7 linked regions of the Homo sapiens genome follow. The protein of the gene in region 2 interacts with the protein of the main gene of each other region in a pairwise test. Each region holds a gene or a part of one and is shown on either strand. Other genes may lie near its edges. The genes, in order: BLK, STAT3, NR4A1, MAP3K7, NFE2L2, RET and LMO2.

Region 1 (3,500 bases), on a different chromosome or scaffold from region 2:
CCATCCACCCACCCATCCATCCATCAACACATCCATGCATCCATCCATGTATCCATCCATCCATCCATCTATGCATCCTTCCATGTATCCATCCATCCATGGATCCATCCATCCATCCACCCACCCACCCACCCATCCATCCATCCACCCATTCATCCATCCATGCATGCATCCATCCATCCATCCATCCATCCATCCATCCATGCATCCATCCATCCACCCACCCACCCACCCACCCACCCACCCACGCATCCACCCATCCATGCATCCATCCATCCCCTTGCTACACCATGCAATCAATACTCATTTACTAATATGGGACTGTGGGGAATATAAAACTGAGTACTAAATATATCTGGGCAGCATCTAACAGTACTCGTTCTGATAACTAATATTTATTGAACAGTACCAGAAATATATTTTAAAAAATGTTGAGTAGGGCCCAGATCTGCTTTCAAGAAGAAGCTGCCCAGATCTGCTGAGCAAGAACAGTGCTTCCGGGAACACCTGAGCTAAGGGCTCTCTGGCAGTTTCTTGTCCAGGGAAACCTTCATAGAAATGACATTACGCTTGAGCCATGGATGATGATAAGGATTCTGCCAGGTGGGAAGTGTTCAAGGCTTCCTGGGCAGAGGAGGTAGAGGGGTGGCGAGGCATGGGGCATGGGAACCGGTGGCATCTGGCTGCAAAGTGGGGCCCGAGGGATTGTGATTGCAGGGTTCCTGTGGGGTTGGCCAGATCTGGCCTTGGAAGAAAGGTCTGGCGAGACTTTGCATGGCTTCCTATGGAGTAAGAAAAGAAGAGCCCAGAAGGGCCGGGTGTGTGTCTGCTCATGTGTGTGTAAGTTTGCGTGTTTGTGTGTGTGTTTGTGTGTGTGAGTTTGTGAGTTTGTGTAAATGTGTTTGTGTGAGTTTGTGTTTGAGTCTGAGTCTGTGTATTTGTGTGTCTGTGTGAGTTTGTGTGTGTGAGTCTGTGTGTCTGTGTGTGTGTCTGTCTGTGTGTGAGTTTGCGTGTCTGTGTGAGTCTGTGTATGTGTTTGTGTTTGTCCGTGTGTGTGTGAGTCTGTGTTTTTATGTGTGTGAGAGTGTGTGTGTGTACATGTGTGCTTAGAGAGCCATTGGCATGGTCAGCATGTGGTTAGAGGCTGCCCTTCTGGGAAGTTCTGATTTTCTGGCTCCTCACCCCCGATTCTGTGGCTACATCCAGGTATTAAACTCCGATGGCTTTTCACATCCTTTGCCCCTGGGTCACACGAGATTTCCCAAGGGGGTGTAGTGGGGATTGAATAGGAGACAGCGGAGGGTGAGAGAAGGAAGGGGAAAGGAAGCAGCAGCAGTGGGCAGGCTTATCACTGCCCTGGGGTTTGAAGCCGGTTACCAGCACTCATTTTCCAAAACCAGCCTGCCCAGATGGCTGTCTGCCCACCTCAGCGGAAAAAGGCGTTGTGGCATCAGTTCCTGCAGCGGCGCTACTGGGTAAGGCTGGGCGAGGGGCGAGGTGGGAGGGCTGATGTGGGCGGTGGGTGGGAGCGTTTCCTCTCGGTGGCAGCTGTATGTGTGTGTGTATGTGTACGCACGTGTGTGCCTCACAGGCTGACCACAGACCAAAACTTTTCTGCTGAGAGTTCCAGTTTTAACAGGGCCACCAGATGTGCTTCCTGCCAGCTAGAGCTCTCGGCTAAAACCCTCCTCTCCACTCTGCTCTTCACCCCATGGAGTCCAGAAAGTTCTGCATGTGAACGTGAGGGACACTGAGGACCAGTCCTGGGTAGCCAAGGAGGTCCAGCACTCGCAATTCCCTGGTGGCAGAAGGTGGGGCTGTCCTCCAGGGCTCAGAGAAGTCATGTCCCTGGCATCTGTGTGTAGCTCAGGCCTGCCCATCAGCCTGGGGTCGACGCCAGGGCTGTGCAAAGGCTGAGGGCCCCTGGGATGGGAAGTCCTACAGGAGATGTTTGTGGGCACCATCTAAGGAAGAGATGAGGTCACAACAGAACACACTTGCCTGCCGGGTTCAATGGAACTCTTGCTAACTCTGTGTGTTTCCCATGACATTCATTCGCCCTCTCTTCCTTCGGAACAGAATAGCCTCATTCCAACACAGCAGCCCGGGTCTAAGGCTCCATTCCCTGGGCTCCCTCACAGCTGCGTGGGGCAGGAGGCACAGTGGCCAGGGTTTGCAAGTCCAAGTGCAGTGGGTGACCTTGGGGATATCTGCCTAGAGGAAGGTGGCCTTCAGTACCCCCTGACTTCTCCTGCTGGCTGAGAGGATGGGGTGGTAAGGCACGAGCAGCCATTGTGGGCAGCAGGTGGCACATGCCGCCCTTTCTCTGCACCTGGTACTTCACCAACCTGCGCCGACATGTCAATCAGCCTTGGGAGTGACAATCTGCTCCCTTCATCTGTCTTCAGGAAATCCAGCAGGCATCCTAAGAAAAGAGAAGTTGCAAGTGCCCTTCTGCAAAGTGACCCGCCCCTGGTGGTGCCAGCCTCTCTCTGGTGTGAGTGGCTCCCCATGGGCGCGGGAAGTGGGAGTTTGCACCCTCAGATCTCTCGGTGCATCAGGAAGGATCTACCTACTGCTGCCGAGTGCCTTCCACTTTACAAAATGCCAGTCTCAGCACCCCGGGAGGCAGCCAATATACCAGCAGTTGCCCAGAAGTTAGGTTTCAGCCAGGTGCAGGGACCTGTCTGAAGTCACCCAGCCGGGAGCTGGGAGTGGGACCCCAGTTCTGACTCGAAGTTTCATGCCCCTTCTTGTCTTTCCCCCCGTGTTGGCCTCGCTCCCTTGATCCCTGCTGGCAGACACCCTCTGCCTCTGAGGACCAGGCATCAGCAAGAAAGCACCAGAATGGAGAGAACTGTCCCCCAGGTTTGGTGCAGGGGACAAATGCAGCTCCCCCTGGAATCAGAAAGCTGGGAGGGATGGATGCTTGCCCTAGGGGCAGGCTAGAGGCACCCCCAGCACAGCCTCCGACCGGGGGCCCCTTGGTGACAGTTGTTAGGGAGCTATATCAACATGGGCATGTTAGGATCCTATAGGAGCAGTGTGCGGTCAGGGTCATAGGAGGGTGAGAAAGTGGCATGAGAACTTGGCCACGCCGTGGACCTCAGAGGCCATCAAGCCCAACCTCTCTGGCCATCCTTGTAAAATATTCACACAGTTGTAAATGGTTGCATGACCAGGAGGCAGGAGACCTGGATCTAGTACTGTCCCTGCATGCCTGGCCTGGTGTTCGTCTGACTTTGCAATGCTCTGTCCCTCCCAGCAGGCATCAAAGAGTGCTAGGCACAGAAGATGCACTCCAGAAATGCTGTCTGAACTGCTCCTGGGCTGAGAACATGGCTCTGTCAGAACCACTTCACCCTCCTGTTTCTCACCCTCCCTCTGTCCCTCCCCCTCCCTCCATCCCTCCCTGTCCCCACACCGTGCCATGCCCTAGATCTGCAGGACCCCCTGGCCTGGTGAACCCACCGCAGCGGACCCTCCTCCTCCTGCTAAGC
Region 2 (3,500 bases):
CTTTATTGCCAGATGGGATGCCAAGGATTTTTTTGGAGAAAAGTAAGCAAAAATAAACACAGTGTTAAGCAAACAGTAATCATTCCACCTTCTCTTGTAAAAATCCCAGTGGAAGTTTTTGTCCTGAGTCACCCCTGTACGTAGCCTCTCACCGATTCTGCTGCAGAACTTACCTCTAGGTCAATCTTGAGGCCTTGGTGATACACCTCGGTCTCAAAGGTGATCAGGTGCAGCTCCTCAGTCACAATCAGGGAAGCCTACAGTAACGAGAAGGACACTCTTAGGCCAGGTGTGGTGGCTCATGCCTGTAATCCCAGCACTTTGGGAGGCCAAGGCAGGAGGATTGCCTGAGCCCAGGAGTTCGAGACCAGTCTAAGCAGCACAGCAAAACTCCATCTCTGCAAAAAATACAAAAATTAGCTGGGTGTGGTGGTGCACACCTATAGCCCCAGCTACTCGAGAGGCTGAGGTGGGAGGATGGCTTGAGCCTAGGAGATGGAGGCTGCAGCGAGCTATGATTGTGCCACTGCACTCTAGCTGGGGTGACAGAGTGAGACCCTGTCTTAAAAAAAAATTAAATTAAATAAAAAAAAAGGCTGAGCGTGATGGCTCACACCTACAATCCCAGCATTTTGGGAGGCCGAGGCAGGTGGATCACATGGTCAGGAGTTCGAGACCAGCCTGGCCAATAATTTGGTGAAACCCCGTTTCTACTAAGAATACAAAAATTAGCTGGGTGTGGTAGTGGGCGCCTGTAGTCCCAGCTACTCAGGAGGCTGAGGCAGGAGAATCGCTTGAACCCAGGAGGCAGAGGATGCAGTGAGCCGAGATCACGCCACTGCACTCCAGCCTGGGTGACAGAGTGAGACTCTGTCTCAATCAATCAGTCAATCAATAAAAAAGAGAAGGACACTTTTCCTCAGAGAGAATGGCATTCAGTACTAACAGCCACAGCCAAGGAAAGTGACATGCCAAGCCTCACCACACCAAGAAGGGTAAGCCACCAGGTGGTCACAAACAAACTGCCAGGGACACAACTTGCTCGGCACTTACTCTCTTCAACACCAAGAACTTCCAATGCTGTGATCCTCAACCTAATCCTTTACTCAGTTTGTATTATAATATTACATAGATCCAATTGGTTATTTGTAAAATACGTAAGGCACAAAGAATAACAAAACAATATGAACCCACCATTCAATTTAAGGAAAAGTCCATCACTCCTAAAATTCTCTGGGTGCCCTTCCCCAACCCCATCCCCTTCCCTCCTCCCTCAGAAATAACTGCTATTTTGTCTTTTGGGTTTATCATTTCCTAGCCCTTTTTGTCTTGTTTTGTTTTGTTTTTTTACAGTTTTACCATATTTGTTTATCTAAGCAATGCAGGTATTGTTTAGTTTGGGACATTTGTGAACCTTACACTTATGGACTCCAATGAATTCTTTTGGGATTCACTTTTCACTTGATGTGAAATGAATCCACATGGTTATGTGTATCTGCAGTGTATTCCTTTTCACAGCTGCGGAGTATTCCATTGTGTCTATACCACAAATAATGTATTCATTCTAATGTTGATGGGTATTTATTTGGGTTGCATTTAGAGCTTATAATCAGGCTGATGTCCACTTTATATATGTCTCCTGGGACATATATGCAAAGATTTCTCTGCTATTAAATCCTGGGAATGGCACCGTTGGTTTACAGGTATGTTCATTTTTATACTGCCAAATTGTTTTCCAAACTGACTACAACAATGTCTCACATCAGTACAGCAACCTTATTTTAAGTAAGAGTTGTCAATGAATTCTCAAAAATTGAATTCTAGTCTGGGCACAGCGGCTCATGCCTGTAATCCCAGCACTTTCGGAGGCCGAGATGGGTGGATCACGAGGTCAGGAGTTCAAGACCAGCCTGACCAATATGGTGAAACCCTGTCTCTACTAAAAATGCAAAAATTAGCCAGGCGTGGTGGCATGCACCTATCGTCCCAGCTACTTGGGAGGCTGAGACAGGAGAATCGCTTGAACCTAGGAGGCAGAGGTTGCAGTGAGCTGAGATCGCACCACTGCAATCCGATAGAACGAGACTCCGACTCAAAAAAAAAAAAGAAAAAAGAAATTAAATTATAATTCATTTTTAATACTATTTTTCTGATTATAAAAGTAATATATTCAGTTTAAAATGCAAATATCACAGAGACAGTCTAGAATAGCCATGGATACCAACAGCAGCACTAATACACATAGCACTGCTGGTATATTCCTCCAGAATTTCTTAATATACATATGAATACACATAAGAGTATAGTGTATTTTTAAAACACATATACTAATAATACTATTCAAATTATTTTACATTTTGCTTTTTCTTAATATGTCATGTACATTTTCCCATATCATTGCATACAGGCTACTTCACTCTACTGTCAAGTAAAATTCCACATTTTTAAAAAGGACTGCTACATTTTATTTTATTTATTTTTTTGAGACAGAGTTTCACTCTGTTGCCCAGGCTAGAGTGCAGTGGCAAAATCTTGGCTCACTGCAAGCTCCACCTCTCAGGTTCAAGCGATTCTCATGCCTCAGCCTCCCCAGTAACTGGGACTACAGGCGTGCACCACCACACCCAGCTAATTTTTGTATCTTTAGTAGAGACGGGCTTTCACCATGTTGGCCAGGCTGGTCTTGAACTCCTGACCTCAAGTGACCAGCCTGCCTTGGCATCCCAAAGTACGGGGTGTGAGCCAGCACGCCCAGCTAGGACTGCTACATTTTAAAGAGGAAGAATTGTTCAGGGGACAAATGTAAGAAAAAGAACGGGGCATCACAATTTTTAAAAATGACTGAAAACTAGCCTTCCGTCACATTTACCTTTTTTTGTTTGTTTGTTTAAAGTTTATTCTTGACAATAAGAATCCAATAATCTGAATCAATGAAAAGCAGAAAATAAGGGGGATAAAGAACAAGATGGGTTTTTGTTTGTTCATTTTATTTTATGTACTCTTTTCCTAAGCAAGCTAATGCAAGGTGGTCATTTATTTTAAAGTTTAACTCAAATCTGTTGCTTTTACACCCTCTATCCCACCTCAGTGGGAGAGAAAAACAGGGCACTAAAAATGGAGCCAAGCAGGGTCAGCCGCAGGAGCTGGATGGGGAATTTGGAAAGCCCCAGGCAAGGTGGAAAGCTGCTTTATACCACATGGGTGTGGAGAACAACTCAGCAAGGGACTTTCCACTTCTCCTTAAGGAGGAGCCAACTCCCAGATATTCACGGAAATGTTCCAAGCCAGAGAGCTCCATGGCACATGGAACTTCTGTTCATGTCACTTTGGCCTGAAGTGACTTTTTGGAATAACTACAGCTGAAAGAACAGGTTGATGTTTCTAATTCTGGGGATTAAGAAGGATCTTTACCCCTCTCTCCCTCAAGGAAAACACCCCAGTTGTCTTTCATCCCCAACAAAACTTACATCACAATTGGCTCGGCCCCCATTCCCACATCT
Region 3 (2,781 bases), on a different chromosome or scaffold from region 2:
CAGCCCCGAGGCAGCCCCCGCTGCCCCCACTGCCCTGCCCAGCTTCAGCACCTTCATGGACGGCTACACAGGAGAGTTTGACACCTTCCTCTACCAGCTGCCAGGAACAGTCCAGCCATGCTCCTCAGCCTCCTCCTCGGCCTCCTCCACATCCTCGTCCTCAGCCACCTCCCCTGCCTCTGCCTCCTTCAAGTTCGAGGACTTCCAGGTGTACGGCTGCTACCCCGGCCCCCTGAGCGGCCCAGTGGATGAGGCCCTGTCCTCCAGTGGCTCTGACTACTATGGCAGCCCCTGCTCGGCCCCGTCGCCCTCCACGCCCAGCTTCCAGCCGCCCCAGCTCTCTCCCTGGGATGGCTCCTTCGGCCACTTCTCGCCCAGCCAGACTTACGAAGGCCTGCGGGCATGGACAGAGCAGCTGCCCAAAGCCTCTGGGCCCCCACAGCCTCCAGCCTTCTTTTCCTTCAGTCCTCCCACCGGCCCCAGCCCCAGCCTGGCCCAGAGCCCCCTGAAGTTGTTCCCCTCACAGGCCACCCACCAGCTGGGGGAGGGAGAGAGCTATTCCATGCCTACGGCCTTCCCAGGTTTGGCACCCACTTCTCCACACCTTGAGGGCTCGGGGATACTGGATACACCCGTGACCTCAACCAAGGCCCGGAGCGGGGCCCCAGGTGGAAGTGAAGGCCGCTGTGCTGTGTGTGGGGACAACGCTTCATGCCAGCATTATGGTGTCCGCACATGTGAGGGCTGCAAGGGCTTCTTCAAGGTACCGCGCAGCCCCAGGTGGGGCCTTTTGTTGGAAATGGAGAGAGGCTGGCCTCATCCCATTGGGACCTGTGGTCTCCCCCTGGGTTCTCCTCCTAGCTAAGTCCTGTCCTGCAGGGTGGGATCAGCCCTGCCAGGTGGGCCGCCTTCCTGGAGACCCGTAGATGCCAGGGCTGGAAGCTTTCATTTGCCGGGACACTCGGGCCCATGGGATTGCACAGAGCTGGAGGGAGGGGTGAGATAGGGGCAGATAGGAGCTGCAGGGGTGCCTGGCGAGCCTCTGGTTTTCCTCTGCTCCTCTGCCTGTCCTCTCCCAACTCAAGGTTCTAGTGGGAAGGGGTGCCCCCAGGCTCTCATGTTCCTGGCGTGAGATGAAAGGATCCCTGCGGAGGGTTTGGTTCTTGAGGGCTGGGGGTGGACTTGGGAACAGGCTGTGTGTTTGTCCCAGCGATGGTGCCTGCTTAGCTTCCCGTCCCCACCCCCCAGCCCCTTGGCCCTCTCCTGTCTGCCCTAGGGAGAAGGCAGGTGGACAAGGGCCCATGAAAAAATACAGGTGTCTAGACTGCCAGGGAGACCCTGGCCCCCAGTAGTGTGTCCTGGGGACTTCCTCAGAGCGAGAAACCTCCCCCAATGTCTTCAAGACTTTTCTCTCCCCCCGCCCAACCCCGTCTCTCCCTCCCTTGCCACCCAAATGTTAGAAAAATAGCTGTGAACAGAGAGCGCTTTTGTCTGCAATGGCAGCAGGATCTGGACGGTCCCCTCCCCTAAGTTCCCCCCTCCCCACCCCACACTCTGACAGCTTGTTCCGTGTTGCCCCCCCACCCAGCGCACAGTGCAGAAAAACGCCAAGTACATCTGCCTGGCTAACAAGGACTGCCCTGTGGACAAGAGGCGGCGAAACCGCTGCCAGTTCTGCCGCTTCCAGAAGTGCCTGGCGGTGGGCATGGTGAAGGAAGGTGTGTGGCTGGGGTGCGGCCCAGCGGGGCAAGGGTAGGCTTGAGTGGAGTGGGACCAGCAGGGCCCCCAGGCTTCTGCCCTGGAGGACCCAGAGGAGGGCACGTCTTATTTCCACCCCACCTCTGAACCCCAGGCCTTGGAGGGAGGCAGCCTACACCTGCCTGGATTGTGAGGGTGGTGGCAGGGGGAGGTTCCTATAGGGTACCTTGGATCTCAGGGACTCTGGGTCCTAGGGACTCGGTGGGGCGCGTCTCAGCAGTGGTGTGCACGGCTTGGGCTGAGAGGCCCTTCCTCAGATCCCTTCCTTCCTCACCCCTACCCATTCCTTTGCAGTTGTCCGAACAGACAGCCTGAAGGGGCGGCGGGGCCGGCTACCTTCAAAACCCAAGCAGCCCCCAGATGCCTCCCCTGCCAATCTCCTCACTTCCCTGGTCCGTGCACACCTGGACTCAGGGCCCAGCACTGCCAAACTGGACTACTCCAAGGTGAGGTCCCACCCCGTGTCTGCCTTGGGGAGGTCTATGAGCACATGCAGTGCCTTTGTGCGTGTTAGGAGAGCTACCCCCTCTGGAAGGACTGAATGAGAAAGGAGGTTTAAAAAAGAAAGAAAGAAAAGCGACTCCCTCCAGTTCGACAGATCAAAGAGAGGATCCCCCTCTCGGCTGACCAGATGGGAAAATGCACCCCCTCAGGCAGGTGGCCAATTAGAAAAATATGTCCTTTTGGCAGCTGCAGCCCTGGGTTAATATGTGAGACTTGGCAAGTGAGAGCCTGGGCAGGATCTCAGATCCACTCCCACTCCCGGGATCTGGCATCCAAGTGTCTGACACAGCCATACGTGGCAGTGGGTGTAGGAGCCTGCCTGGGGTGCTGACCCCACTGGACCGTCTTCCTAGTTCCAGGAGCTGGTGCTGCCCCACTTTGGGAAGGAAGATGCTGGGGATGTACAGCAGTTCTACGACCTGCTCTCCGGTTCTCTGGAGGTCATCCGCAAGTGGGCGGAGAAGATCCCTGGCTTTGCTGAGCTGTCACCGGCTGACCAGGACCTGTTGCTGGAGTCGG
Region 4 (3,500 bases), on a different chromosome or scaffold from region 2:
TTTGCTAATACCATAAAGCTTGTGGGAAATCCACTTAGAACAAAACAATTTCTAGAAAGTATTAAGAAATTTTGGAAATTAAGTATCACCCTTCTTTACAATTAAAATGTCATGTAGGAAATTTGAGATATTCCCAAAGGATGGGCGGTATTTTTATATTTAATTTAAAAACATTACCTATGAGCACATTCATGATTGGCTTTTATGTCCACTAGTGTCAATTCTACAGCTTGTATTCTTCTATTAAAGAAAGTGCACCTGAGTAAGTTAATGTTTGATATCTGAGGGGGGAAAAGCCTAAAAAGAATATTTAATAAAAGGTATTACTGAATAATATTTTCATATGAATAGCACTGCTGCTCTGGCAATTAAGAGAATTAAGGTTACCTGATTCCATAAAGGCCCAATGTCATAAAAGAGGATCTCCCTGGCTGAAGAGCTCTCCTTAATGTGAACACTAAGAGAAAGCAAGAAGAAATTACTCTAGCTTCTCTGACTTAAACAAAAGAACAAAAAATGGATGTGACTTGGAGTCAGAAGATCTGGGTTGGGGTCCTGGCTATATGATTCTGGAAAAACCACTAAACATCATCAGATCTAAGTTCTTCGTCTGTTAAACAGCTATAATTTCATCCGATAACCTAGTTGTAAGATTGTATAAAGGTAAAATAAGATGTACTTTAAGCTACTTTGTAGGGCACAAAGAACATCTAATCAGGGGTTTTCAGCCTCAGCACTGCTGCCATTTTGGGCTGGATCATTCTTTGTTGGAGAAGACTGCCTGGTACACATCAGGATGTTTAGCAGCATCCCTGGTCTCTGCCCACTAGATGCCAGTAGTACCTGACAGTTATAAACTATTATTCTTTCCTTATTTTTCCCTCCCCCATTATCTTGTATAGCGTGGGCTACGCTGCCATATATAAATTTATTCTTAATGCTTAGTCATAAGATTACACTGCCATCTGTCTAAATTTTCCTGATTCCCTCAAACATTTAAGGGAAGCACAGTTCAGCGGTATGTAAGTTTAAATGCTTCCACCTCTTTAAAGTACGTCCCTTATACACAGTACCTTTCCGCATGGAGGTAAACTGATCTCCATGTAAAATGATCTCTTTGTTAATTTCTGAAGCAGTCCAGATTCAATAAATAAAAATTACCATGTGAAAAATGGGTTAACTCTACTCTTTGAATAGCAATAGTAATGATGTTGTAAAATAAGAAACCACTTTGATAACCAGGGGAAAATTAATATAAGATAGTTTTATACAGACAAAATGGCACCTAAGAATAGTATAATTCATATTTTTGTATGCTAGTTTCTCACCAGGGGAGATGCTCAATAGGTCTGTTCATTTATTTAATAAATGTATTTATTAAACACTATGTTAATATGCTTAATATGTGAAGCACTGAGCCAGCAACTGCTGATACAATCAATAATAAGCAACAACAACAAAATAATGCACAAAGATATGGATTCTATCCTTACATAGTTTTCAGTTTAGTAGAGGAGAAAATAACCATTAGGTATTCAACTAGAATTATCAACACTGCTAAAAACACAATCACAGGCAAAGGACAGCATGCTGAAGAATTCATCCAACTCGCACTCATGAACGTGTGTGGAAAATATGTATTTCCTTATCAAGATTTTGGGTAAAGAGGTAGAGAAAAGCCTAAAGGGATAAATAAATGATAATTTTGATAATACATTAATCAATACTGAAGGTCAATATGCCATTTAAGTTTCTATTAAAAATGGTAACATATTCCTCTATGAAATGATCACCATAAGAAATAAAGCAGTTTACCAATTTTAGACACTAAAGTACCATGTGTAAGTTAGGTATAAAAACATGTAATTTATGAGATTCTCCTGATAATACACAAAAATCAGAATTGACCAACTATTTTACATGATTCTTTGGCAAGATACCCTGCAAAACAGCACATCTCATTTAGCTTTACTTTTTGTTTTCCAGGTTAAGGCAAAATGCTATTTAGCAACTCTCTTCTCTCAACTTCACATTCACTTGCTACCAACAGAAAGAGGTTAGGACAGAAAGTCTAGAGGGGACCCAAAAAGCAGTAACTGAGGAAGGAAAGGAGCCAAGGAAAATAACAAATTTTAATTAGTTGTTTCCTCTTTCTGTTGGGTGCAAAAAAGGTCTGGGTTTAGCTCATGTGCTCACTTAAAAGTAGAGAGGAAGTTGGTAGAATTCTGGGTTGGTGTTCTCCCTTCTCCAAAAAGGTTTACTTTCTCTTCTATTTTATCCTCACTTATTGTAGATCAGAGGTATCTTTTCAAGACTGCTTCAGAATAAATGTAGTTTTTCAATCTGTCTCCCTAATTACTGCATGCAAGGTATCCATTTTCATGTCTTGTAAAAATTGGAGCAAGAAGCATTTTACAAGTACCAGGGATCATTATTCCGGTTCCACAGCTATTAGACCAACTCAGGTGGTCTATGATACCTGATATGACGATCTCAGGGACATCCAGAATGTTGCCAAATGAAGCAGTTTTACGGTGGCCCCGTTTAGGCTTGGAATAGGCTGCAAAAACACATATATACAGTATACATGCAAACAACCACAAACAGTAACACGGAAAATGATTAACTACAAAAATAGACTCATTTTCAAATAGTTCATGTTAATAACATTTCATGCAGAATGGCATGCAGAACTACCTAACTTTTCATCCATGCTCAGAAAAGGCGAGATTAAAGAGCAAACAACTACCAAATACAAGATGTTTTACACACTGGTTTTAATTAGCAGAAAAAAATAAAAAGAACAGAGACAAAGCTGCAGGGTAATGAGGAAGCAAAATTTCAAATATATTCATAGAAACAGTCTACCTAAGTGAAATCACTGATCTGTGATGGGGGTGGGGGAACGAAGGAGGAGAGGAAGAAAGGCGTTAAAAAGTAAGTTGTCGTATTTGTTTTAATTACACAAACACAGGAATACATGTTCAAGTTAGGTGTTTCTTGAAGTGTGCTATAAAGTAAAATCCAATGATTAAATAATAATTATTGAATCAAAGTGTGAAATGTATATGCTTTTGTAGTCATACTTATACATATTTCTAGTACCAAATATTTATTATATTTTCCAAAGTTTAGGGTACATTCACAGTAAACACAAAGTCTGTCAAAAGGCTGGAAAGTATGACTCTTTCCAAGTAAGACAATTCATGAAAAAATTTAAATTGTGTAAAACTCAAGGGATGTACAATAGCATTTGTTCTACACTTAGGCAAAATTTTAATGTGTGTGGTTATCCTTCTAGCAAAGTCATTTCTGTAAATAATAATAAAAAACCAGTGCTTGACTAGAAATATGATACTAGCGAAGACATGAAACCATTATTATAACAATTTTCAGTTTTGAGACAGCAATTAGTATGTGGCAGATCTATCCTGAACAACATCCCTGAAGTGAAAAGGGTTCCTCAAAGCATGAGGGTATGTCCCGGTGAGTAGGGTTCA
Region 5 (3,500 bases), on a different chromosome or scaffold from region 2:
GCTACTTGATCCTTACAGGATGTTTCTATACTTTACAAAACTCTTTGGTGTAACTTAAGTCTTCCCAATCCTCACAATAACACTGTTAAGATCAATAGGTTGGGTACTGAACTCAGGTTAGGTACTGAACTCATCAGGAGGCTGAGGTTGGAAAGTAGATTTGACAAGGTTAAGTAAAAGAAAGGCAAAGCTGGAACTCAAATCCAGATATTTTAATTCCTTGCTCAGTGTTTCCTTAAACCTGCCATAACTTTCCCAAGAACTGAGTACTCTGTACCTGGGAGTAGTTGGCAGATCCACTGGTTTCTGACTGGATGTGCTGGGCTGGCTGAATTGGGAGAAATTCACCTGTCTCTTCATCTAGTTGTAACTGAGCGAAAAAGGCTTTCTCTTGCTCCTTTTGGAGTTGTTCTTGTCTTTCCTTTTCAAGTTTTTTCTGTTTTTCCAGCTCATACTCTTTCCGTCGCTGACTGAAGTCAAATACTTCTCGACTTACTCCAAGATCTATATCTTGCCTCCAAAGTATGTCAATCAAATCCATGTCCTATGTTTAAGACAAAAAAAGGAAGGAGAGAGCTCATGTTTTTTAAATGACAGATACCACATAAATTAATTCACATTATGCCACTGTTGATGGTGGGAAGTGGGGAGATTACAAATACAATCTAAATGAGAACACAGATCCAATGTTCTAGAAGAGCACAGTTAATTCCATTCAATGAATCTATTCATTAAAGACAACAAACAACCTACAAACACATAGCCATCCATTCTAATCACTTGGATCATTAATGATAGGGTGATGGTAGAGGTCACTAAAGGGCAAAGTCACAAATGGTTTGAATGAGAAGAAATCCCACCCTTGTTTAATGGAATATAGAAATTAGAGCAAGCACTCTAAGCCACTGGCTTATATAAGAGAAGTGGGGTCTGGAAAACATTACTGAATACATGGAGTTTTCTTTAAACTTTGCTCAGCAAATATCCAGTTTATAGAGGGATAACTCTCAAGTTAAAGTGTCAATCTAGCAGTTGTGAAATATCACCATTCTTTCCATCTTTCCTACACTAGATTATCTTCTCCCCATCACTGCTTGCTACTCTTATCTCTGTGGCTTACCTATATGCCTGTAATCCCAGCACTTTGGGAGGCCAAGGTGGGTGGATCACCTGAGGTCTGGAGTTCGAGATCAGCCTGGCCAACATGGTGAAACCACGTCTCTACTAAAAATACAAAAATCAGCCGGGTGTGGTGGTACGTGCCTGTAATCCCAGCTACTCAGGAGGCTGAGGCAGGAGAATCGGCTTGAACCTGGGAGGCAGAGGTTGCAGTCAGCTGAGATCGCACCACTGCACTCCAGCCTGGGCAACAGAGCAAGACTCCATCTCAAAAAAAAATAAAATAAAAGCAGACAGGGACAGGTGCGGTGGCTCACGCCTACAAGCCCAGCACTTTGGGAGGCTGAGGCAGGTGGATTGCTTGAGCCCAGGAGTTCGCGACCAGCCTGGGCAACATGGAGAGACCCTGTTTCTACCAAAACAAAAACAAACAACAACAACAACAACTGGTGTGGTGGCGCACACCTGTGGTCCCAGCTACTCAGGAGGCTGAGGTAGGAGGATCACTTCAGTCCAGGAGGTCATGGCAGCAGTGAGCTATGATCGTGTCACTGCACTCCAGCCCGGGCAACAAAGTGAGACCCTGTCTCATAAATAAATAAATAAATAAATAAAACTATGGCTCCAGGGAAGGATTAAAGGTATTAAGTTTTAAGACATAGGAAGAATCTTACAAAGAGGGAATGGTTTTGATGAGGAGAGGCTGAGCTTGGTGACTCAGGCCTGTAATCCCAGGAGTTTGGGAGGCCAAGGCAGGAGGATTGCTGGAGCACAGGAGTTACTAGCCTGGGCACCATAGTGACACCTGTTTCTACCCAAAATCAAAACAAATTAGTTGCACGTGGTGATACGAGCCTGTAGTCCCAACTATTAGGGAGACTGAAGTGAGAGGATTGCTTGAGCCCAGGAAGTCAAGGCCATGGTGAGCTGTGATTGTACCACTGCACTCCAGCTTGGGTGACAAGACCCTGTTTCACACACACAAAAAGATACATGGGGAGAGAATTTATATGACTAGGCTAGGCATAGGAACCACATCCAGATTTTCCTAACCAAAAATGTGTCAATAGCAGTTTTTCTGATTTGTAATTTTAGTCTTTGGAAAAATCTAAATAGGTAGGAAATCTAAATCTGTTTCCATTCCACAAATCACCTATAGGGGAAATAATTAATTTGAGAATGGAAAAAAATCAAGATGGGGGAACGGGAGTTGGGACTTGAAGGCCAGTGGGTACAGTGTAGACACGTCACACTTTGCATTTCATTCTGCTGACAGCTGGCAACGCCAGACTTAGAGTTCTATTACTTTCAGCTTCCCAAGGACGCAAATAACATGGTGGTTGTTTCAGTGAGGAGTCAGGCTATTTTTATCCAACAGAGGAGCAGGCCACCCAGCCTGGAGGCAGCGCAGCTAGCTAGATGGCACAGGCCACCTGTGTCCATGATTGAAGGTTGGCGTTGGAATCTTAAATGCTATGAAACCCTGCTCATGGGGCTCATTATTCTAGCCTTGAACAATATATATTGTAAAGCACACAAAGTAGGCATAGTTAAAGTAGCACTTGTAGTTAGGTATACCTCACTAGGACATACCTAATTATCTTTAAGCCAGTATCTATTAAGGGCTTCCTATATGCTATGCACTGTTCTAAGTACTTTACATATAGAAACTATTCCTCAAAACAGCCTTATACAGAGAAAACATTCCTGTTATACAGTATAAGAATACTGAGGTTAAGAAAAAAGATACTACCAGAAAGTGGCTGAACAAAGACACATACCCAGGCAGCTTCAGTCGGGTTCATGCTTTATTAGCCATGAGCCTACACTATTATAAAATGGCATGGCATTTGCTGCAAATAACCTATGCATATCCCTTTATATACTTTAACTCATCCCTGGATTACTTACAATACCTAGTAAAGTGTAAATGCTGTGTAAATAGTTGTTATACTGTATTTTATGTGTGTATTGTTATTTTTTCGGGTTTTTTTTCCACTTTTTTCCTTTTGAAATTTTATTATTTATTTACTCATTTTGAGATAGGGTCTCACTCTGTCACCCAGGCTGGAGTGTGGTGATGCAATCATGGCTCACTGCAGCCTTCACCTGGGCTCAAGTGATCCTCCCACCTCAGCCTCCCAAGTAGCTGGGACTACAGGCACATGCCACCAAGCCCAGCTAATTACTTTTTGTAGAGATGGCGTCTTGCCATTTTGCCCAGGCTGGTCTTGAATTCCCGGGCTCCATTGATTTTCCTGCCTCAGCTTCCCAAAGTGCTAGGATTACAGGCATGAACCACTCCACTGTGCTTGGCCTTTTTCCAAATATTTTTGAACCAATCTGCCATTGGTTGCATCATGGAACCAGAGGCTGCATGG
Region 6 (3,500 bases), on a different chromosome or scaffold from region 2:
ATTCCCGCTGCACACCCATGGTAGAACTGCAACCAGGACATGAGCCTCCTGACACCCCTAAAAGCCATGCAGCCTTCTGCCGTGAGTGGGGAAGGGGTCCAGGCATGGCTGAGGTTTGGGAGAAGGAGGTCCGCAACTGGGCACTGGGGGACCTGGCAGCCCAAGGCTACCTTCTGCACACAGACCCAGCCTTCTGCTCTGAGGGGCCCAGGCCCTAAGCTGCACGATGGCCACCACCCACACTTCCATACCCAGACCAGCTGCAGCGGCCTGGCCAGGATGATGGGCGCTCCTGCCCAACTGCAATTTCCCAGCTGCTGCAGAGTTAATCACCAGCCTCACTGGCAGTTGCTTCCGGCTTCTATGCAAAGGAAACTGCCAATTAGGTTATAATTAATTTCTTTCCTAGGGCAAGGCCTGGCTGAACAGGACTGGCCACCCAAGTGGCCTGTGGATGACCATGTAAGGGTCACTGGCCCCCTTGGCTGCAGGGCTGTAGAGTCTGCCCCAGCTGATTACATTGTTCACTGGCCCTGGCCTGGGGCAACGGGGCCAGGGCATCACCACTGGCTTTGACCCTGGTGCCTCTGGCCTGGGCAACTGTCCCCATGCACTCAGCAAGGCAGTGACTCAGATCATGTCCATGTGCAAATTTAAGTCAATCTGTCAGCTCATGTTCCTCAAGCTGAGATGGTCTTGCCCATTTTCGCCCTACCCCAGCCCCTTCTCATCCCTGTTCAACATTAACCAGTAGGAATCCACGGTGTGCTCCTCATGAGCAGGTCTGCTCCGGGCGCTTCATCTGCATCACCCACTGCATCAAAACAACTGTCAGAGGTAGGGACCATGAGGATTCCCATCTCACACAGGAGGAAAATGAGGCAGCACTAGCTTAGGTACCCTGCTGGAGGCCACACAGAGGCTAGGAATTAAGCTGCAGTCTGGCCTGGGCTTCTCTGTTCAGTGACAGGCATGCAGAGAAGCCGAGGCACCGTGAGCTACCACCCCTTCTGCATTGGGCTGCAGAGTAGAAGCTGGGCTCTCCCTGGAGAGAGGACACAAAAAAGGCTTGAGGGTCTGCTCTTAAGAGCAGTGGAGAGCAGAGGGAGAGAGCCAGGAGCCTCTGAGACAGTAGGTTTCAGCCCAGCACAGACCTGGGGCCAGACAAGCTGACAATCCTGATGCCCCAGGTCACAGCCAGGCAGCCCGATGCGGGGGCACCACCTGCATCTGGATGCTGTTATCCAGGTCCTGGGAGCAAAGACCTCAACATCAAGGGTGAAGAAGAATCCAAACCCAAGGCTGGGGATGCCATGCAGGGAAGGGGATGCCCAGGGAAGTGGTGCCAAGTCTTCATCTGACACTACCCCCATGTGTGACAACTCACGCCTCCCTCAGGGCCTCGATTTCTCCCTGTGTAAAATGAGAGGTTTGCACTGATGTGTAAGCTCCTCTCAGCCGAGGTCCTCATGCCCTTTGAGTCCACGTGATGTCTATGCAGGAGTATCCACAGAATGAGCTCCTGACCAGGGGCCGAGGGGCAGACGGTGGCCGAGATGGAAATCAGGACAGGCTCTGGCCTAGGTGGCCCCTGGGGGGTGAGGGACATGGGGCCAAAACAGGATTAAGACTGCAAGTGTCCTCCCAGGCCACTGACGATGAGGCAAGAAGACAAAGGCCTAGTCCAAAGGAGAGAGTTCAGCAGCAGAAAGGAGAGAGTTCAGCAGCAGGAAGGAGCAGAAACGCAGGGCAGAGCGGCCCAGCCCATGCCCCTGTGCTTCCCCGCTGTTTGCCAGGGCTGGGCACTTGGCTTCCCTGGCTCTGTCCCTAGCTGCGAATGGGGACAGGAACTCCTCCTTGGGAGCACAGAGTGCCTGCCTATGGATGCCAGTGTTCCACCCCCACCAAGCAGATTTGCAGGAGCCCACAGAGGCTGCCTGCCACCCTCGGTTCAGGGCCCCCCAGCTCCATGCTGGCCTCCAGAGCTGCCTAGGTGCATCCACCGCTGTCCTGAGAAAACTGCCCCAGGGCCTGGCAGCATGACATCACACCACGGCAATGATGATAATCAACTTACAGCGGATCCGATTATCAGCCTGGTTATTTTTAGAGTCAGGGTTCAGGATGAGCGAGAGAGGGCGGCCCTGGTTCCCCTGCTGCTGAGTCTCGTCTTGTCAGTGGGGTGGGGGTCTGCTGGCTCCTTGCACCTTCCCCTTCCTCCATCCTTCACAGGGCGGTTCCTGAGAGGCCCCTTCTTATGCACAAGCAGTGACACCATGGTTTCCAGATGTTGGTGCTCAACGTGGCCTCAGAGTCCAGGTCTTCCGAGAATGTCCTCAAGGTCCTCGAGGGCAGTGGTGATTCAATGCCCATGTGAGGAATCAGACGAATCCACACTCTCCTCACAAGGGACCTGGGGCTCAATCACTGACAGTGACGGCCCTGGATAAAGCTGCTTCTCTGCAGCTCTTGATGCAGATGCAACAGCAAAGTCAGCTGTATGGCAAGACAGCCATCTAGTTAGACAACAGGCAGAGGGCTCGAAGAGATGCTTCTCCAAAGAGACATGCAACTGGCCAGCATGCACAGGAAAAGATGCCCAGCACGCCATCACCGGGGAAAGGCAAACCAAAGCCACAACGAGCTAGCACTGTGCACTGGCTGCACGGCCAGAGTGAGACATGAACCAGAGAATAACAGAGAATAATGCGTGGTGGTGAGAATGTGGATAGATTGTAACCCTTGGGAATGTAACACAATTCAACCACTGTGGAAAACAGTTTGGCGGCTCCACAAAATATAAAACAGAATTACCTAGCGATTTCATGTCCAGGTATGTACCCAAAAGAACTGAAAGCACGAACTCAGGTATTTATAACAGGAATGTCCCTGGCAGCATTTTTCATAACTGCCAAAAGGTGGAAAGCACCCACGTGTCCATCCCCAGATGAATGGGTGACGGCACACTATTTACCCCTCACAGGAAGGGGCTGATGTGTGCCACAGCCTAGAGGAACCCTGAAGACCTTATGCTGAGTGAAGCCAGACAACAGTCCATGCAGATGAAATGTTCCAGGACAGGCCAAGCCGCAGAGACAGAACGCAGGCTGGGGGTTGCCCGGGGACAGGAAGCAGCTGTTTAATGGGTATGGGGTTTCCTTTTGGGGTGATGCAAATTTTTTGGAACTAAGGCAATGCCTGTTCAATGCTGTAAATGTGCTAAATGCCACCAAATGGTTCACTTATAAATGGTTAAACTTATGTTACACAAATTTCACAATTAAAAAAGAGTAAACCATAATTATTTGCTACCCTGTTTCCCCCTCTGTCCCCCTCAGCTGCTGGGCCCGCCAGGAGCCCCTGCTATGTGGACCAGGACAAGGGATGGAGAGCTGGTAGGCAGAAGTGTGTGCAGGTACACCCCTGCGTGCCCCCATCCCCGCGTCCTCTGTACTTGAAGCCTCCTGGGGTGAGAACGACCATGTGACAGGATCCCACGG
Region 7 (3,500 bases), on a different chromosome or scaffold from region 2:
AATTGCTTTGGGAGGCCCAGGAAGGGAAGTTCCAGCCACAATGGCAATGAGGTTTATTGTGCCCAATGGGGAGGAAGTGAGAGGAGAGAGTTATAACTTTGGTGGCCTGTGTGGTGGCCACCCTTTTCAGGTATGTGACAAATGCTGATTGAGGGATCCCCCAAGGGAAGCTGTTTGTGCTCCAGCAAGGGGGTCCCTTGGTAGATGATGTGGGTAACTGGTGGGCAGCCTCCAGGATGCAGTGGTTGGCTGGGCTGTGGTCATCACCTGCAATGTGGCCATTGTCTCCCTGGGCTGGTACACCTTTTTTTTTTTTGAGCCAGAGTTTCGCTCTTGTCACCTAGGCTGGAGTGCAATGGCACAATCTTGGCTCATTGCAGCCTCTGCCTCCCAGGTTCAAGCAATTCTCCTGCCTCAGCCTCCCAAGTAGCTGGGATTGCAGGTGCCCACCACCAAGCTTGGCTAATTTTTTTGTATTTTTAGTAGAGACGGGGTTTCACCATGTTGGCCAGGCTCGTCTCAAACTCCTGACTTCAGGTGATCCACCTGCCTTGGCCTCCCAAAGTGCTGGGATTACAGGCATGAGCCACCATGCCCGGCCACAACTCTTAAGTCAGATTTGGGTCATGGAGATATAGGCTGACATCTGGAAGGGTGTCACAAAGATGCACAAAGCAGAAGGGGTGCTTGAGGGCACATTTAGAAGGGGTGCTGGAGGACACCACATGCGCTGGGCTGACAATTGGGCATCATTTCTATGATAAAAGTAGTTTGTAGGGGAGGTGGGACTAAACATACAGGACCACATTCCTTTTTGTTTGTCCTGATGGCTTCTCAGGATGATGTGATATTCCTGGCCCATGGTGTTGTAGAAGAATTGTACATTCCAAACAGATAGGGATGACACTGTGGGTGCAGTATTGCCGAGGTGTCCCAGCGCTGAGTAGGGAAACTGTGTCCCAGGCCACCAGCTATATCAGGCATAGCCAGCTATAAAAAACCTAAAGGTTTCACAATAACATTTTCAGTTTTTAGACTCTGTAATAGCATTTAGGGCTGGCCTTTTATAATGACAGGGGCATCTGTATCCCACAGCTGTGAGTGGCTGTCTGTGCTTTGGCATCCGTGGTGGGGAATAGACAGCCTCAGGCATTGTTATTTCAGAACACGAATGTTGGGGGGCTCCTTTGTCTTGCTCCAAGATCCACATGGTGGTAGGTGTCAGTCCAGGGGCCAATATTCTATCCCCTGTGGAACAAGCTTAACATTAGCCAGCCTTTAAATCCATCACAACTGGTAGATGTGTTAGGGGATGGGAGAGCCTCATTTCCAGGCTGGTAGAAACATGTTGTCAGGGACTTCGCTCTTCCATCCATAGCCAGCAGGTCCCACTTATTATTTGCCATTGGTCTGACACCGATGCCTTGTGAATTGTGGATAGATTGAAAAAAGATATAGGAATGAAGGATCAGAGGAGCAATCCCACATGGGAATCCATGACTTGGAACCTGGGACTCTTGTCAGAACTAGTAAGTGTAAAATGAGGGCATTTTATTATGGATGAGGGGCCCATAGGGGCAAGTATCAAGGGAGATAAGAGCAGTAAGGAAAACTGATTTGGAAACCACAAGCCATTTTGTAGCTTTAAGAGAATATACATCATTGTGGAGTTTGCGGTAGCCTGGTGGGAGAAGTGAGCCAGTGACAGACAGGAATACATGTCCACCATGGTTAGGGCATATTGTGGGGTTGGGGAACCTGAGGGAAGGACTCATTACCGTCAATTTTCCATCATGAGTGTGGTCAGTTTCCTCAGTGATTCTGCTAGGAGTGACATATTGCACCCACCCATACTTCTCCACAGATATTCAATATGTTTGGGATAGCAGTTGATTATGGGTGGGAAACGTAAATGCAGCATCTTATTGTGGAAGGCCTTAGCTGCAAGTCTCCAGGAATGTGGATTTTTTTTTTTTTTTTTTTTTTGAGACAGGGTCTTGCTCTGTTGCTCAGGCTGGAGTGCAGTGGTGATACTGTGGTTCACTGCAGCCTTGACCTTCTGAGTTCAGGTGATCCTCCCACCTCAACCTCCCAAGCAGCTGTGTGTGCCACCACGCTTGGCTAATTTTTGTTTTGTTCTTTTGTTTTGTTTTTTGTTTGTTTGTTTGTTTGCTTTTTGTAGAGATGGGGTTTTGCCATGTTGCTCAGGCTGATCTCAAACTCCTGGGCTCAAGCCATCTGCCCGCCTTGGCCTCCCAAAGTGATGGGATTACAGGTGTGAGCCACTGCACCTAGCCAAGAATGTGGATTTAATGAGCCACTAGTCCATGGAAGACTCTTGAACAGGGGAAGGATGTGAGTGGAGTTGCATTTGGGTTGGGTTGGGGTGGGGAGAGGCTGGAGGTGAGGCTGCTGTGCTAGGAGCTTAACCACCAGTGAAGGGTTGAAGAAAGGAGGTGGGGGCAGGGGGAATGACTGAGTGGGCAATGACAGAGGCACTCACGTGACTGGCCAAGACTTGTCTGCAGGAGACCAGGGAGCTATAGCCAGGCAGCTGCAGGGCCATTGATAGAAGCTGCCATGGCTTGAGCACTTGCTCTATGCATACTCACGCAAGCGCATTCGTATATGATCTCGCTCATCCCTCACACTGAGGTCATTTGTGGGATGCAAATGGCCAGCCTTATGCTTCTGCCCCATCCACACAGGTCAGGGGCCATACTCTGTGCCACTGCCAGGGGGATCCTTTCATAACCTGCATCAGATCATTTCGCTCCTCTGCTTGAAGCTCTCCCAAGGTTTCCTTCTTGCCCAGAGTAAAAAGCCAAAGTCCTATAAGGCCCTGCATATCTGGCTCTAGCCATCTCTGTGTCCCCTTCTCTTACACTCCCTTCCTCCTTCCCTCCCTCTGCTTCATCCACACAGGACCCCTTGTCATTCTTCAAACTCTTGCTTTAGGGCCTTTGCTCTTCTCCTTCTTCCGGGAACATTCTTCCCCAGATGTGAGTTCTTCTTATTAGAAAGGTCTTCCTTCATCACCTGAGTAAGACACTAATAACCCGGGCCAGCGCATTCCATTTTCCCTCACTCTGTGTTATTTTTCTCCCTAGCACATATTGCCATCTGGCATACTATATGTGTACTTGCTTATTTGATTGGTGTCTGTCTCCCCCTCTCAAGTTTGTAAGCCCCTTTCAGGCAAGAGCAATGTTTGTTTTGTTGACGTCTACGTATCCGCAGTGCCTAGAACAGTTCCTGCTGTGTATGAGGCGCCCAGTAAACACTTGCTGAGTGGATGAATGAAGTGTGTATTATCATCCTGATTCAATGAAAGGGAAAACTGAGGCTCAGGAAGGGTACGCAACTTCTCCAGGCAGGACAGCTAGTAGTCGCCAAAGCCAGGGTTCAAGTCTGACTACAAAGCCTGTCCTATTTCCGTTAGGGTAGAATACCCTCGAGGAGTCTTGGATCTTTGTAACTGAGAAAATGGATCTTTAATA

The links.
Region 1: the proteins of STAT3 (region 2) and BLK interact in binary tests that used the Homo sapiens proteins (3 or more experiments, as listed by UniProt).
Region 3: the proteins of STAT3 (region 2) and NR4A1 interact in binary tests that used the Homo sapiens proteins (3 or more experiments, as listed by UniProt).
Region 4: the proteins of STAT3 (region 2) and MAP3K7 interact in binary tests that used the Homo sapiens proteins (3 or more experiments, as listed by UniProt).
Region 5: the proteins of STAT3 (region 2) and NFE2L2 interact in binary tests that used the Homo sapiens proteins (3 or more experiments, as listed by UniProt).
Region 6: the proteins of STAT3 (region 2) and RET interact in binary tests that used the Homo sapiens proteins (3 or more experiments, as listed by UniProt).
Region 7: the proteins of STAT3 (region 2) and LMO2 interact in binary tests that used the Homo sapiens proteins (3 or more experiments, as listed by UniProt).

What each region holds. Positions count from the first base shown.
Region 1 is NC_000008.11:11,556,887-11,560,386, reverse strand, and holds part of BLK (tyrosine-protein kinase Blk), read right to left. Parts: coding exon of another isoform or gene 3,472-3,500; intron 2,498-3,471; exon of another isoform or gene 2,426-2,497; coding exon 2,349-2,425; exon of another isoform or gene 2,122-2,348; intron 1-2,121. UniProt on the Homo sapiens protein: Non-receptor tyrosine kinase involved in B-lymphocyte development, differentiation and signaling. B-cell receptor (BCR) signaling requires a tight regulation of several protein tyrosine kinases and phosphatases, and associated coreceptors.
Region 2 is NC_000017.11:42,325,943-42,329,442, forward strand, and holds part of STAT3 (signal transducer and activator of transcription 3), read right to left. Parts: coding exon 3,468-3,500; intron 258-3,467; coding exon 174-257; intron 1-173. UniProt on the Homo sapiens protein: Signal transducer and transcription activator that mediates cellular responses to interleukins, KITLG/SCF, LEP and other growth factors. Once activated, recruits coactivators, such as NCOA1 or MED1, to the promoter region of the target gene.
Region 3 is NC_000012.12:52,054,442-52,057,222, forward strand, and holds part of NR4A1 (nuclear receptor subfamily 4immunitygroup A member 1), read left to right. Parts: coding exon 1-763; intron 764-1,588; coding exon 1,589-1,718; intron 1,719-2,052; coding exon 2,053-2,204; intron 2,205-2,615; coding exon 2,616-2,781. UniProt on the Homo sapiens protein: Orphan nuclear receptor. Binds the NGFI-B response element (NBRE) 5'-AAAGGTCA-3'. Binds 9-cis-retinoic acid outside of its ligand-binding (NR LBD) domain.
Region 4 is NC_000006.12:90,542,073-90,545,572, forward strand, and holds part of MAP3K7 (mitogen-activated protein kinase kinase kinase 7), read right to left. Parts: intron 2,561-3,500; coding exon 2,480-2,560; intron 1-2,479. UniProt on the Homo sapiens protein: Serine/threonine kinase which acts as an essential component of the MAP kinase signal transduction pathway. Plays an important role in the cascades of cellular responses evoked by changes in the environment.
Region 5 is NC_000002.12:177,233,728-177,237,227, forward strand, and holds part of NFE2L2 (nuclear factor erythroid 2-related factor 2), read right to left. Parts: intron 545-3,500; coding exon 278-544; intron 1-277.
Region 6 is NC_000010.11:43,083,569-43,087,068, reverse strand, and holds part of RET (proto-oncogene tyrosine-protein kinase receptor Ret isoform a precursor), read right to left. Parts: intron 1-3,500. UniProt on the Homo sapiens protein: Receptor tyrosine-protein kinase involved in numerous cellular mechanisms including cell proliferation, neuronal navigation, cell migration, and cell differentiation in response to glia cell line-derived growth family factors (GDNF, NRTN, ARTN, PSPN and GDF15).
Region 7 is NC_000011.10:33,885,577-33,889,076, forward strand, and holds part of LMO2 (rhombotin-2), read right to left. Parts: intron 1-3,500. UniProt on the Homo sapiens protein: Acts with TAL1/SCL to regulate red blood cell development. Also acts with LDB1 to maintain erythroid precursors in an immature state.